Homo sapiens: one gene and its partner. The protein of the gene in region 1 purifies or fractionates together with the protein of each later gene. This does not show direct contact. Each region holds a gene or a part of one and is shown on either strand. Other genes may lie near its edges. The genes, in order: SMO and PTCH1.

Region 1 (7,263 bases):
CTTGGTGGGGGTCCCCAGGGAAGGGTCATGATCAGAAGGGTCTGGGGCTCAGTTAAGGGTGTCTGTGTCAGCAGAATAACCCTAACCTCACAGAATGGCCCACTTCTCTCTTCTAGGCCACATTCGTGGCTGACTGGCGGAACTCGAATCGCTACCCTGCTGTTATTCTCTTCTACGTCAATGCGTGCTTCTTTGTGGGCAGCATTGGCTGGCTGGCCCAGTTCATGGATGGTGCCCGCCGAGAGATCGTCTGCCGTGCAGATGGCACCATGAGGCTTGGGGAGCCCACGTAGGTGTCTTGGGGACCCAGAGGTGAAGGTACAGGGAGGAAGGCTGAAGTGTGCGTTTACCCCAAAGGGAGCAGGTGCGTGTAAAACCGAGATCCAGGGCAGGATCTGGCTCTGCCCTACTGCATACTGCATGCAAGATCTCCAGTGTTAGGATCTTAGTTTCAGAATCAGGACCTTCATGGTTTGTATCTGCTCAAAGGGGCGGCTCCTAGAGCCTCCTCAGATCTGACCTGGGTCCTGTCTCCAAGCCCTGACTTCTGGGAACCTCCAGACCTCAGCAGCTGAGGGTCTGGGCACAGGGTGGGGAGACCAGGTAGAGGGAGTACAGAGTGACCGCCTCAAGTGACACCTCACCTCTCTGCACAGCTCCAATGAGACTCTGTCCTGCGTCATCATCTTTGTCATCGTGTACTACGCCCTGATGGCTGGTGTGGTTTGGTTTGTGGTCCTCACCTATGCCTGGCACACTTCCTTCAAAGCCCTGGGCACCACCTACCAGCCTCTCTCGGGCAAGACCTCCTACTTCCACCTGCTCACCTGGTCACTCCCCTTTGTCCTCACTGTGGCAATCCTTGCTGTGGCGCAGGTATAGTGACTGGTAGGAACGGGAGACCTGGATGGGGTGAGTTTGAGGGAGGGGGCCAGTAACCCACCTTCTGTCCCACCCCTTCCTGCTGCAGGTGGATGGGGACTCTGTGAGTGGGATTTGTTTTGTGGGCTACAAGAACTACCGATACCGTGCGGGCTTCGTGCTGGCCCCAATCGGCCTGGTGCTCATCGTGGGAGGCTACTTCCTCATCCGAGGTGAGTGAAGACCAGGCCAGGACCAGTTGGGCAACAAAATATACTGGGCACTTGCTGCCAGTACTGGGAGCTGCCAGCACGGCTGCCCCCATGCTGAAACCCCAGCTAGCTCCTATAGGGCCTTCACACAGTAGAAGGTGACCCTCTAGGCAGACGAAACACCGTGAGCACTTGCTGCGGGACAGCACCTTTGTACTGGCCAGAAAAATCCATCCCTCTCTCCAGGGCCTTGGCCCAGGGCTCACAGCTTGTTTTTTTTGTTTGTTTTTGTTTTTGAGACAGAGTCTAGCTCTGTTGCCCAGGCTGGAGTGCAGTGGCACAATCTTGGCTCACTGCAACCTTCGCCTCCTGGGTTCAAGTGATTCTCCTGCCTCACCCTCCCCCATAGCTAAAATTACAGGCATGCACCACCACGTCTGGCTAATTTTTGTATTTTTAGTAGAGACGGGGTTTCACCATGTTAGCCAGGCTGGTCTTGAACTCCTGACCTAAAGTGATCCACCACCTCAGCCTCCCAAAGTGCGGAGATTACAGGCATGAGCCACAGTGCCCAGCCTCACAGCTTGTTAGGTGGAGTTGGGTCAGGATCCAGCCCCAGTCAGCTCCTGGCCGGTGCACTTGTGTGATGAACACCCTGAGTAACCTACTCTGCCCACTTGGACCAACCTAGGTCGTTTGGTTATCTGTGTGCACATTAATTCGATATGTACTGTCAATCTTCTGGAGCTTGGTTTTCATCTTCTTTCTGTCCCCGGCACACACAGCTCTCACAGCATGCGTGGAATTAGTGGTCCCTAACTTTCCTGTCTCATGCTGCCATCCCATAGTAAGCCTCAGCATCTATTTAGCTCATTGTTGTTGGGTTTTCTTTGTAAACCTCAGTTTCCTCACCCTGAACTGCCAGCCTTCTGTTCAGTCACCTCTTTCCCCTCTTTTTGGCATAGTGTCTGGCCCTCTGATTTGTGCTTCGTTATCATGCTGTCCTAGTATGGTAATCACTAGCCACATGTGTTGAACTAGTCCAGCCTGGGTGCGGCGGCTCACTCCTGTAATCCCAGTACTTTGGGAGGCTGAGACGGACGGATCACTTGAGCTCAGAGTTCGAGACCAGCCTGAACAACATAGTGAAACCCCATCTCTACAAAAAATACAAAAGTTGCCTGGGCAGGGTGGCACATGCCTGTGGTCCTAGCTATGTGAGAGGCTGAGGTGGGAGGCTTGCTTGAGCCCAGGAGGTTGAGGCTGCAGTGAGCCATGATCTTGCCACTGCACTCCAGCCTGAGTGACAGAGTGAGACCCTGTCTCCAAAGAAAACAAGACAACAACAAAAAGAAACAAGTCCAAATTGAGATGTGTTGTAAAATGTGAAATACACACTGTATTAAAAAAAAAACTTAGTGGGAAAAAAATGTAAAATATCTCATTAATAATTTGTTACATGGATTACATGTTGAAATGATTTTATTTTGAATATATTAGGTTTGTAAAATATATTGATATTAGTTTTGCTTGTTTCTTTTAACTTTTTTTAAGTGGCCACTAGAAATTTGCCATATGTATGTGGCTCACATATTTCTATGGGAAGGCCGGCATGGTGGCTCACACCTGTAATCCCAGCACTTTGGGAGGCCGAGGTGGGCAGATCACCTGAGTTCAGGAGTTCAAGACCATCCTGGCCAACATGGTGAAACCCCATCTTTACAAAAATACAAAAATTAGCCGGCGTGATGGTAGGTGCCTGTGATCCCAGCTGCTTGGGAGGCTGAGGCAGGAGAATTGCTTGAACCTGGGAGGCGGAGTTTACAATGAGCCGAGATCACGCCATTGCACTCCAGCCTGGGCGACAGGGTTCCATCTCAAAAAAAAAATTATATGGATAGCGCTGTTCTTGAGTCTGTTTTATGTCTTTCCCATCAGAACAGCTTTGATCTGCCCCCTTCTTCAGGGGCAGCTGGGCCACGACCGAGGCTCCCTCTTCTCAAGTGTCTGTCTAGGCTCTGCCCTGGTCTTCTCACCATTTCTCCAGTGTCTCTAGCTCCCCAGGTTTTCATTTAGCACAGGGGTAATCAGACTTGGGACTCCAGAGCCTTAGGACCCTCCTCCCACTCACCCATCCTTCCCAGCAGGGCAGCCTCACCCCTGCTAATGTCTGAGGTCCCCCTTCTGTTCAGGAGTCATGACTCTGTTCTCCATCAAGAGCAACCACCCCGGGCTGCTGAGTGAGAAGGCTGCCAGCAAGATCAACGAGACCATGCTGCGCCTGGGTGAGTGGCCCCGGGGGACTTCGGTCTGAGGTCCTGGCCAGCCCAACACTGCACCCTCCTGGGGCTATGCGACCGGCAGGATGCAGTAAGTCAGTGGGACAAGTTAGCCATAGGGACAAGGACAAGGGGTGTGTGTAGGTGGTAGTGGTAGTGGCAGCTCAAAAGAAGGGGGTCTACTCGGGGGGAAGAATTCAGTCAAGTTCATGCCGGGACTGGTTCCTCCTGCCCACTACGTCCCACGTGGTCCCTCCCACAGTTGCTTCAAGTGCCCTTCTTATTTTATTTTAGAGAAAGCAGTTCTTGGACTGAGCCCAGCATGAGTTCACCCCAGCCCCAGCTGGGTGAACTTTGAGGCCCAGTGGGGCAGACTCTCTCCTCCCCACTGCTGCTGCGGGACTGGGCTTGGTAACGTCCTGTCCTGCCCCTGTCCTCCACAGGCATTTTTGGCTTCCTGGCCTTTGGCTTTGTGCTCATTACCTTCAGCTGCCACTTCTACGACTTCTTCAACCAGGCTGAGTGGGAGCGCAGCTTCCGGGACTATGTGCTGTGAGTGAGGGGCATGGAGGCGGCAGTGCTGGGAGCTGGAGCCAAGGCCATAAAGACACCCACCTCCACCCACCGGGCAGCAGGGATTTGCCAGGTCCCTGCTGCAGACAGCAGATTCAATGGATGGTGTCTGGGTGCATAAGGCATCAGTCTCCGTAGTTTCTCAAACGTGGCAAACAACCTTCGCATCCCTTCTCACCTCTGCCCTTCCCTCTCCACCCCCTTGGTTGCCCAGCTGGTGCATGTGTGACTGTTAAGCAGCCAGTTCAGCTTCGTCTTCTCTGACTGACACTAAGTTGCCCTCTAATTCTGTGTGCTCTCCTGCAGAGCCTGCTTTAGATCCTGGCACAGGACTAGTTACCTCTCTGTGATAGGTTAATGACCTGCTAATGTTGGCTAGTTTTTGCCTGTGCTTTTTTGTGTCATAATGAGGATGGATTGGAGAGAGTAAGACATTGCTACTGCTGAGAGAAGCGCAGTACCCACTGTTACAAGGACAGTCGCTAAAATGGATGCTAGTCCAAGCCCTGACTGCTTCAGGCTCTTCCGTAAAGGTTCCGGCTTCCAGTCTGGGATGCTTTAAACCACAGTGATGCCTGAGTCTCTGCCCCAGAGATTCAATTTAATTGTCTAGGGTGGGTCCCAGGCATCAGTAGCTATTAAAAGCTCCCCAGTTGATTCTAATGAGCACCCAGGGTTGAGATCAGTGCTGTGGAGCTTAGCCCTTTCTAAAGTTTTTGGATTGATTGTCTGAGTCTACCCAGTAGACTCAGAAAACCCCACCTGTAGTCCCAGCTACTTGGGAGGCTGAAGCAGGAGATTGCCTGAGCCCAGGAGTTGGAAGCTGCAGTGGGTTGTGATCACGCCACCGCACTCTAGCCTGGGTGACAGAGCAAGATCCTATCTCAAAAAAAGAGAGAGGAAAAGAAAGGAAAGCCTCACCTGTCTACGTTCCCTCACTGTAGATGTCAGGCCAATGTGACCATCGGGCTGCCCACCAAGCAGCCCATCCCTGACTGTGAGATCAAGAATCGCCCGAGCCTTCTGGTGGAGAAGATCAACCTGTTTGCCATGTTTGGAACTGGCATCGCCATGAGCACCTGGGTCTGGACCAAGGCCACGCTGCTCATCTGGAGGCGTACCTGGTGCAGGTGGGCATGGCAGCCAGCCCCTCCTGCCCTGCCCGCCTCACCCTCAGCCTTGGGACCCCATCTTTAGGTTTTGTCGGGTCCTGCCTCTAGCACAGCCTTGGTCAGTGGTTCACCGCTGCCCCCTGGTGGCACCTTCTGTCCTTGGGTGGCCTGATGCCTGGGCCTGGGCCTGGGCCAAGGGCAGAGCCAGCTGCCATCACCTTTTAAGAGCGGAGTGATTGGAGGGCTGGGCACACAGGAGCTCTGCATTCTGGCCCCACTTCTTTGCAGAGAAGGCCTCTACTCCTGAGTCCTTGAAGGACTTGAGGCCCTTGGGAGCCTCCTTCTCTGGAAAGAATGGCATCGCTGGCCCTTCCCAAGATTTGATGGGAAGTGGCAGCTTCTTCACGCTCCTTCCCTATCCCTTCTGCTCTCAGGTTGACTGGGCAGAGTGACGATGAGCCAAAGCGGATCAAGAAGAGCAAGATGATTGCCAAGGCCTTCTCTAAGCGGCACGAGCTCCTGCAGAACCCAGGCCAGGAGCTGTCCTTCAGCATGCACACTGTGTCCCACGACGGGCCCGTGGGTGAGCCTCACCCCTCCTCTACCGGAGCCGCCTGGCCCCGCGCTGCCCATGTGCTAGTCTCTCCCAGCCTGCTGGGGGCACACAGATTATTTGGAAGACCGACTGTGAGGAGCAAGGCGCTCCCTCCATCGCTCACACACCCATTCTTCCCCCGGCCCCTCCTACCCTCTGGGGGGCTCTCCCCTCTCTGTTTCTGCCCCTGGGTCTGCTTGCCGGTGCTTGGGTTCCAAGAAGACTCCCCTCCCTCTCCCTTCTCATAAATTCTCCAGTTGCTCTCCCTGGGCAAGAGTAAGTCAGGGTTCCAAGAACTGGATTTCTGGCCTCCAGTTAGGCCCTTTGGGGACGTGAGGCCCTTCTCTTCAGATTCTGAAGGGGTAGAGATCACCGTGGTTACAGGGTGAGCTTTCTCTGGTGAGCAGGAGGGACTGGCTGTGGGAAGATGAATGGCACTGACTATGGGAGGCACTGCCAGGGACCGGGAAGTCACTATTCCTTCTCCTTTCCTTCCTTCCATTCCCACAGCGGGCTTGGCCTTTGACCTCAATGAGCCCTCAGCTGATGTCTCCTCTGCCTGGGCCCAGCATGTCACCAAGATGGTGGCTCGGAGAGGAGCCATACTGCCCCAGGATATTTCTGTCACCCCTGTGGCAACTCCAGGTATGAGAGTTCAAGCTTCTGGAGGAAGGTGGGGGGAGCACAGAGGCTGGGGGCTTCTGGGACTGGAGTACAGGGGCTGTCGGAGGAGGAGGAAGAGGAAGGAAAGGCCCCAGAGGATCTGAAGAGTGGGGCTGAGGCTCTAAGAGTCTAGAGACCTGGGCCCCAGAACTAACAGGTTAAGTGCTCCCAGGGGAGCGGGGGTGGCATGGACAGAGCCAGGGCCCCAGGCTCGTGTTGTCTCTCCTCCTGTCAGTGCCCCCAGAGGAACAAGCCAACCTGTGGCTGGTTGAGGCAGAGATCTCCCCAGAGCTGCAGAAGCGCCTGGGCCGGAAGAAGAAGAGGAGGAAGAGGAAGAAGGAGGTGTGCCCGCTGGCGCCGCCCCCTGAGCTTCACCCCCCTGCCCCTGCCCCCAGTACCATTCCTCGACTGCCTCAGCTGCCCCGGCAGAAATGCCTGGTGGCTGCAGGTGCCTGGGGAGCTGGGGACTCTTGCCGACAGGGAGCGTGGACCCTGGTCTCCAACCCATTCTGCCCAGAGCCCAGTCCCCCTCAGGATCCATTTCTGCCCAGTGCACCGGCCCCCGTGGCATGGGCTCATGGCCGCCGACAGGGCCTGGGGCCTATTCACTCCCGCACCAACCTGATGGACACAGAACTCATGGATGCAGACTCGGACTTCTGAGCCTGCAGAGCAGGACCTGGGACAGGAAAGAGAGGAACCAATACCTTCAAGGCTCTTCTTCCTCACCGAGCATGCTTCCCTAGGATCCCGTCTTCCAGAGAACCTGTGGGCTGACTGCCCTCCGAAGAGAGTTCTGGATGTCTGGCTCAAAGCAGCAGGACTGTGGGAAAGAGCCTAACATCTCCATGGGGAGGCCTCACCCCAGGGACAGGGCCCTGGAGCTCAGGGTCCTTGTTTCTGCCCTGCCAGCTGCAGCCTGGTTGGCAGCATCTGCTCCATCGGGGCAGGGGGTATGCAGAGCTTGT
Region 2 (7,418 bases), on another chromosome or scaffold:
ATTCCTCTCTCCATCCGACCCTCTCAACAAAAATACTGTAGGACTTAAAATCATGTTTGCAATTCCTTGTATTTCTGGAAGAGTATTAAACTCAGTAGACAAAATTATAAATGGCCCCAGGGTCAAATTACTGGAATACATTAACCCCTTTATTCATTTATACTCTGCAAAACTTGCCAAATTACATTGGATTTTAAAGACTCATTTGGTTTGATCTGAGAAACCAGTGAAAAGTTAAATCTCACTGTGGTTTTTCATAACTCCACCAAGTCTGGCTTCCACAATTGCTTACCATTGGAACATCCCAACACAAAGGGCAGATGTTTTATTTCATTGTCATCATTTGGATAATCTGATGTCATTTTTGAAATGTGTGTGGTGTGGCCATGGATATTTGTAGTATTGGAACAGAGAAGGGAGGAGATGTGAGGGAATCCGGAGAGCTTAAGGCATCTGCTTTGAAAACTACACACTCCAATGAGAAGTCTTGGATCATGACTGGGAGACCAAAATGACAATTTATGCATTGAGATGAACTTTACTTGGAAAGGGGAAATGGAACACTCAGCTGTTGCTTCATAAAGGCTGGCAACTCCTGCTGGCTGATAAGGCCCCAAGTTCTCACTTATTTTTATTTGGTAACTGTCACAAGGGGTGCCAGAGGCAGAAGGGCCATTTAAAGGGACTGTCTTCCCGGAGGACACCTTAGCAGGTCTGGCTGCCCCAGTCTGCATCTCAGATCTGTGGAATCCTTGTGGTTAGTTGAAGTTAACAAACCCGGTGTGGCACAGCAGTCCCCTGCACAGGGCATGCATATTAAAGCCGACAATGCTTACAAATGTAAATAAGGGCAGATTGATTAGGAACAACATTATCGCTGGGAATGTCGCACTCGCATGCATCAGCAATGAGGCAAATTGGGGGCAGCCTCAGCCCTGACCACCCAAGTCGAGCAGGCTTTTACACTGGCTCCTCTTCCCTTTCTTAAAACGTTACAGAAACAAGGCCAATTAGATCCTCAAAGTAATTCATCTCTAAGTATGAAAAAAGCAGACCACAGGGGAAGCGGCGGGTGGGGGGTGGGGAGATTAAGATAGCGCTCGTTAGAGCCGAGGCTCCGGAGTGCGTCCTGGAACCCACGGGTAGAATTTACAGGCCGGGACCATTGTCTGAGATGCTGAAAAGTTAACCCATCAAACAGCGGGCGAGGGGGCTCAGGGCACTGAAAGCTCCGGGGATCAATGTTCAAAACGTTTAGGAATTAAGTCAAACTAAGGGATATGGGCCTGAGTGGAAGAGGCTTTGCCACTGAAATGACGTGCATGTGGCAGCCGCCGGAACCAGAGGACATGCAGCCGCGTGCGGAGAGTGAGGCGGATCCATTACGGGCACACAGCTTACCATTTCCTTCCAGAATTCCTTCTTCCAAACAAGCTATACTGAAATCCCTCTAGTAAAAGATTGAGACGAAACACTAATAGTTTTGGGCCAAAACGTGGTGGAGAAGTTTGAAAAGACAAACATAGCAACGTGTCTTTGGCTATATGGTTCCTTGCCCTCCAGCAAGCTTGAAATATAAAAAGGCTAACATGCAAAACTAGGGGTACTACCCCCCTCCCCCAGTTTTTAAAAAGCAATTTCCAGAAGCAAACACACAATGGTTCGACTTGAAGTGTCGGCATAACCATTCAGTAAGAAAAGCTAGAATAGTAAACCTCTTTTCCTGTTTTGTGCTATTTATCAAACCTAATAAACATCAGGATCGTACTCAAAGATGAAACTGGCAATGTGTGGAGCCGTCTGAGCTCTTTATCAACTCAGTGTCATTTTCCTCGCATGCTGCCCGCCTGCTTTCCGAGTTTCCGCAGCCCTTCCCTGAGGCACTCACAAAATCACGTGCTCCTTAAGCGGTCTGAGTTTTGAATTTCCGCGCTGGCCCGGTGCTCAGGTCCCCCTCCGGATCCCGCGAACGCCCCCAAACACCTCCACCCCGTCTCCCTCTCTTCCTCGGGACATCCCGCCCTGACCCCGGCACCGCATACGGTTTGCGGGTTAGGGGGTCGGGGGAAGGGCCTCCCCCTGAAGCCGGGGAGGAGGAGAGGCTGGAGGGAAGGTGGCCAGGCTGGTGGGGGAGGGGAGATTGAGGGAGGGAGCGGGGCGAGGGAGGAAGGAGAAGGCGCAGGCCGAAGGAAGGAAGCGGGGAGGGGAAACCGCCGGGGAGGAAGGAAGGGGGCGGGGAGAGCCGGCGGACGGGCCCCCTGCGGGAGCCGCGTGGACCGCCCCGGTGGCCGGCGCGCCCCGCCGCAGCCCCCAGCGCGCCCGGGCAGCCAGCGCGGGGCCGCTGAATGGGCAGGGACTCGTGAGCGCGACCATTGGCCGGTCGCGGGGAGGCGGCGCGGGCATTGGGCAGCGTAAGGGGGCCGGTCCGCCTTCAGGAATGTACTACGGCGCGTCCGGCACGTCCGTCCGCGCCGGCTGGGCGCGCGCCTCGCCTGGGCTCTCGGGAGACCGCGCTGGAGGCCCGGAGCCGGCCCGGCGCATCCGCCTCCCTACCTACTCTGCCCCGGCCGCGCGGGCGCGGGGAGTCCGGGAGCCGGGCGCGCGCGCGCACCGGGCCTCCTGGCGCGGGGTCACGTGGCCACCGGAGCTCCGCCTTCTCCCTGCTCCTCCCCCTTTCCCTCCATCTGGGTTTCTTTCTTTCCTTTCCTTTCTTTCTTCTTTTTTTTTCAATGAACATACACCGTGCGCATCTTAAAGCCACACCGCCCCATTTCACGACTTCACTAGACTTCTCGCTACTGCCAGTCCCTCTGCAGTTCAACCCCGTTTAAAAAAAAAAATAAAGTGAAGCAAATCAAGGGTTTGCGGGTCGGGTTCCTACCGCAGGGAGGAACGTAATAACTTGGAAACGTAAGAAAAACACATTCCACTTTCCGAAAACAAAAATTTTTTTAAATAAAAAGCCTAGTTGTGTAGACGTGTCTGGCTCCAGAATCCACCTCAAAGGGTCGCGTGTTTTCCCCCTCCGCGGGAAGCGAATCCCCGGGATGCCTTGGTGACACTGGACGCGGTGTCGGGACGAATCCTCGCGATCCGCGCACAGTTTGTTTTCAATGAATCCAGCATCGGGGCATTTATAATCTCCTACGTCATACTATTATTAAATATAACATGCATACCGAGTTTTGTAAAAAAAAATACTGACTATATAAACATCTGGTTAATAAAAAGGGGTGTACAAATGAACCCAAAATAATCAGGAAAACTTTACTCTCTCAAGGAAACAATTCCGTTTCTCTAAGTTGTAAAAAAAGATTCTGTTGTTTCTCTTTTACTTATGTCACATTCGAGATTCAAATAAAAACGCCTCTGCCTCTACAAGACTGCTTCGGTGTCTGGATTCCACGTTTATAGAACACTGACTCCTTCAAACCAAGACTGTGTTTTTTTTTTTTTTAAGTTGGGGGGAGAAAGCGGCTGGGGGGCAGACGGATTTTAAGAAAGATGGCTTTTCCCAACGTCCTTGCTTTCCTCTTTAACTTTCCATTCTGTTTATCTTAATGCGAGGCGTTGTTCCCTGCAAGAGCCTAAGTCTTCCCTTTAGTTATAAAAGAAAAGAGAAGAGGAAAAAAAAATCTGGCACACACTGGCGCACTATCCAGCACGCTGTCATTATTGGTGCAGGCCTGGGAATGCGAGCCGGACCTCCCAGTATTTGCTGCAGCTTGAGGCCAAGGTGCCTCTGAAAGGCTTTTCTTTGAGGAATTTCAGAAATTGTTTAAGCGCTTAAAAAAATATTACATTTCCCCCCGTGTCTACCGCGAGGCAAATGTTCGTGTGTGTGCGTGCGCGCGCGTGTGTGCGCGCAAAGGCATCCCACAAAAAGAAGACACTGTTGAAAAGAAAAGGAATAAGAGAGAAAGGAGGGGGAGCATTCCTTAATGGAAGTATTGCATGCGAGAAGGTTGGCGCTCTCAGAGGCTGCCCCGAAGCCGAGGATGCACACACTGGGTTGCCTACCTGGGTGGTCTCTCTACTTTGGTGAGCTGTTGCTAAGCAGCTAATAATAGTCATGTTTGCTGAGTAATTTCTGCCCTCCGCGAGCCAATCGCGTCGCAGAAACCCAAGCCATCTGACAGCCCCGGGGGCGGGAGCTCCAGCCTTTTTCTCTTTCGCTCGCTCTCTCCCCCTCCACCCCCTCCCCTCCCCTCCTCCTCTTCTTTCTCCAAATGGAGAGAGTTCTTTTTTTTCTTCTTCCATCTCATCTATTGAATCAAGGAGCTGCTGCGGCCGCTGCCCGCTGCACACACACAGAGCGGAGTCCCCAGGTCCCGGGAGCGAGAGAGGCGCGCTGCACGGGGACAGAATGGTCCAGCGGGTTGCCGAGGAGCACAAGAAAGCAGAGTCCGGGACCGAGCAGCCACCGCGAACCCAGCAGCCAGAGCCCGAGCAGCCCGAGCAGCAGCTCCTGGAGCCGCCACCGCCAGCAGCAGCCACCGCGGGAGCAGCGGCAGCTGCGGCTGCCCGGGCCCGGCAGCGCTGAGACCCGCCGGGCACCCTCGGACCCCGCGGCGGCGGCGGCTCTGCGCTTGCCCTCCGCGGCCGCTCGGGCGACCCGGGAGGCGCCGAGAGAGCCAGCGCGGCCGGCGGGAGCAGCGGGGATTCGCTGGCTCTTTCTGCAGTGAAGGGGTCGCGGCGCGGGGCGGGGGGCGGGTAGGGGGAGTTGGGGACCGCAAGGAGTGCCGCGGAAGCGCCCGAAGGACAGGCTCGCTCGGCGCGCCGGCTCTCGCTCTTCCGCGAACTGGATGTGGGCAGCGGCGGCCGCAGAGACCTCGGGACCCCCGCGCAATGTGGCAATGGAAGGCGCAGGGTCTGACTCCCCGGCAGCGGCCGCGGCCGCAGCGGCAGCAGCGCCCGCCGTGTGAGCAGCAGCAGCGGCTGGTCTGTCAACCGGAGCCCGAGCCCGAGCAGCCTGCGGCCAGCAGCGTCCTCGCAAGCCGAGCGCCCAGGCGCGCCAGGAGCCCGCAGCAGCGGCAGCAGCGCGCCGGGCCGCCCGGGAAGCCTCCGTCCCCGCGGCGGCGGCGGCGGCGGCGGCAACATGGCCTCGGCTGGTAACGCCGCCGAGCCCCAGGACCGCGGCGGCGGCGGCAGCGGCTGTATCGGTGCCCCGGGACGGCCGGCTGGAGGCGGGAGGCGCAGACGGACGGGGGGGCTGCGCCGTGCTGCCGCGCCGGACCGGGACTATCTGCACCGGCCCAGCTACTGCGACGCCGCCTTCGCTCTGGAGCAGATTTCCAAGGTGCATTTCAGACTCTCTCCTCCCACTTTCTCTTCCCTCCTCTAACTCTTTGGGATCGCCCCCGCCACACACAAACACACACACTCTCTTCCTCTCTCTCTCACACACACACACACACTCACTCACACCTCTCCAGGAAAAGCAGCAGACAAATGGGGATTGAAAAATTCAAACCCTCCCTCTGGTCCTGGGAGGAAAGGGCTGTCTGAGGTCCGCAGGGGGTGGAGGTGTGTGTGTGTGCGTGTGTGTGTGTGTATACACACGCCCTCCCTGGTGTGCCTTTTCCGGAGCACTGGAAAGCCGTCCACGGCGGACCACCTCAAGGGCGGCCGCGGCACTGTCCTGCCCCGTGCCCCCTGCCCTGAACTTCTTCCTCCTGCGCCCCTGCCCCTATTTGCAGCCTAAACTCCTGTACGGCTGCCACATTTCTTAACATCTTGGAGGGGGAGGCGGAGTGGAGAGAGGCGGAGAGAGGAAGGGGGGAGGGAGCCGAAATAAAGGTGGTTTCCTTTTTTGGCAGCCAGTTTTGGTTTTGTTGAGCATGAAATCTCTGCTCCCTTAAAAAATTATTCTCGGAAAAAGATATCCCCCCCGTTTTCCAGGTTTTGAGCCGCCTCTCCTTAGGGCCTGGTCGGGGGAGGAAAAGTTGTAAACAAATTGCCACCTTAAATTCGCGGTGCGAGTCTGCGGAGCTGCCGGGTTCATTGTGTTTACGAGGCTCGCTGAAATGTGTGGAATCCAGGGAAGGCGAGCACCCAGACGGGGGCCCGCCGGGGCCGCGGCCAGCGCCGGGGAAATGCCGCGCCGGGGAGCAGCCTGCGCCGGCCTGAGCCCTTCCCTTTGCACTCGGCTGTTTTTTACGTTTAACCAGAAAGGAAGGGAGAGGAGGGAAAGATCCATGTGGCTGCCCTCTTCCGATCACAAATATTGTCGTAAGTTGCAGCTGGCTGCCCCACTTCCTAATTCAGCTCACACAGCCTCTCCCCACGCTATGGAAATGCGTCGGGAGTGAACTCCGGCGGCCGCGCTCACCACGTGGATCCCCACTTACTACCATTCTCGGCGGGGGTCCAGTTGGGGGAACCCGCAATATGTTGTTCCAAAGAGCGCTCGCCCCTAGCGCCCGTCCCCGAGGGTGATGGACAGAGCAGGACTGGTTTGCTGGCTCCTGAACCTTGGGCTCCATCGCTGGGATTACGCAGCCCCTCCCTTCTCAGCTCTGGGGTGAATATTGTCTGTGTCGAGTGGTTTCTCTCCTCTCTACCTCGGCTTCCTCTTCTGTATTGCAGCCCCAGTGCCCCAAGTCGCTCAGGGATCCCGCGGGTGGGGGCGCCCTGATGTCCCCGAGGTGCAGCTCCCACGCTGCGGCCCGGCTTTATGACCGAGCCCCCCATGACGCTCAGATCCGCCGGGGCTGCAGTCTCGAGGGCGAGTCCGTGTGCCGCGGCCACCCGCGCCCCCACGGCTGTTGGGGGCTCACCGGGCGGGTGCGCGCAAGCGGGCGTGGGCGCGCGGGCCGCGACTCCCCGGCGCTCACTCCTCCCTTCTGCTTCGTCCCCAGGGGAAGGCTACTGGCCGGAAAGCGCCGCTGTGGCTGAGAGCGAAGTTTCAGAGACTCTTATTTAAACTGGGTTGTTACATTCAAAAAAACTGCGGCAAGTTCTTGGTTGTGGGCCTCCTCATATTTGGGGCCTTCGCGGTGGGATTAAAAGCAGCGAACCTCGAGACCAACGTGGAGGAGCTGTGGGTGGAAGGTAAGAGCGCCCGCCGCGGCGCCCGCGCCCCCGGCCCGGTCCCTCCTCGCGGTTGATAGAGATATTCGCCAGCGCACACCTAGAGCCTGGCTGCGGCCGGCGAAACCCCCTGCCCGCACCCGGGGGATTGTTTATTGTTTGGGCGCCTGGCCGGGAGCCAGGCCCGCCCGACAAAGGCCGCGCTGTAATCTACTCGGGGCGCTGCGCCGGCCGAGGTGTGGTGGGAGAGAGCGGCGGGGGCGGGACGGGGGCGCGGGGCCCCTCCGGGACGGACCACTCTGCGCGCCGGGGGCCCCGGGCCCGCCGCCGCTGCCGCTGTCCGCCTGGGCCGCGCCCCGAGAGGCGCCCCGGGGCTGGCCTCTCCC

What was found.
Region 2: the proteins of SMO (region 1) and PTCH1 purify together in Homo sapiens (affinity purification with western blotting; 2 studies listed by BioGRID and IntAct, with this or other methods). This does not show direct contact.

The regions. Positions count from the first base shown.
Region 1 is NC_000007.14:129,205,494-129,212,756, forward strand, and holds part of SMO (protein smoothened precursor), read left to right. Parts: intron 1-116; coding exon 117-289; intron 290-656; coding exon 657-876; intron 877-970; coding exon 971-1,094; intron 1,095-3,265; coding exon 3,266-3,358; intron 3,359-3,795; coding exon 3,796-3,904; intron 3,905-4,869; coding exon 4,870-5,055; intron 5,056-5,471; coding exon 5,472-5,620; intron 5,621-6,142; coding exon 6,143-6,277; intron 6,278-6,530; coding exon 6,531-6,958; 3' UTR 6,959-7,263. UniProt on the Homo sapiens protein: G protein-coupled receptor which associates with the patched protein (PTCH) to transduce hedgehog protein signaling. Binding of sonic hedgehog (SHH) to its receptor patched prevents inhibition of smoothened (SMO) by patched.
Region 2 is NC_000009.12:95,506,042-95,513,459, reverse strand, and holds the start of PTCH1 (protein patched homolog 1), read left to right. Parts: upstream 1-4,193; 5' UTR 4,194-5,098; coding exon 5,099-5,299; intron 5,300-5,419; exon of another isoform or gene 5,420-5,526; intron 5,527-6,032; exon of another isoform or gene 6,033-6,231; intron 6,232-6,260; exon of another isoform or gene 6,261-6,523; intron 6,524-6,860; coding exon 6,861-7,053; intron 7,054-7,418.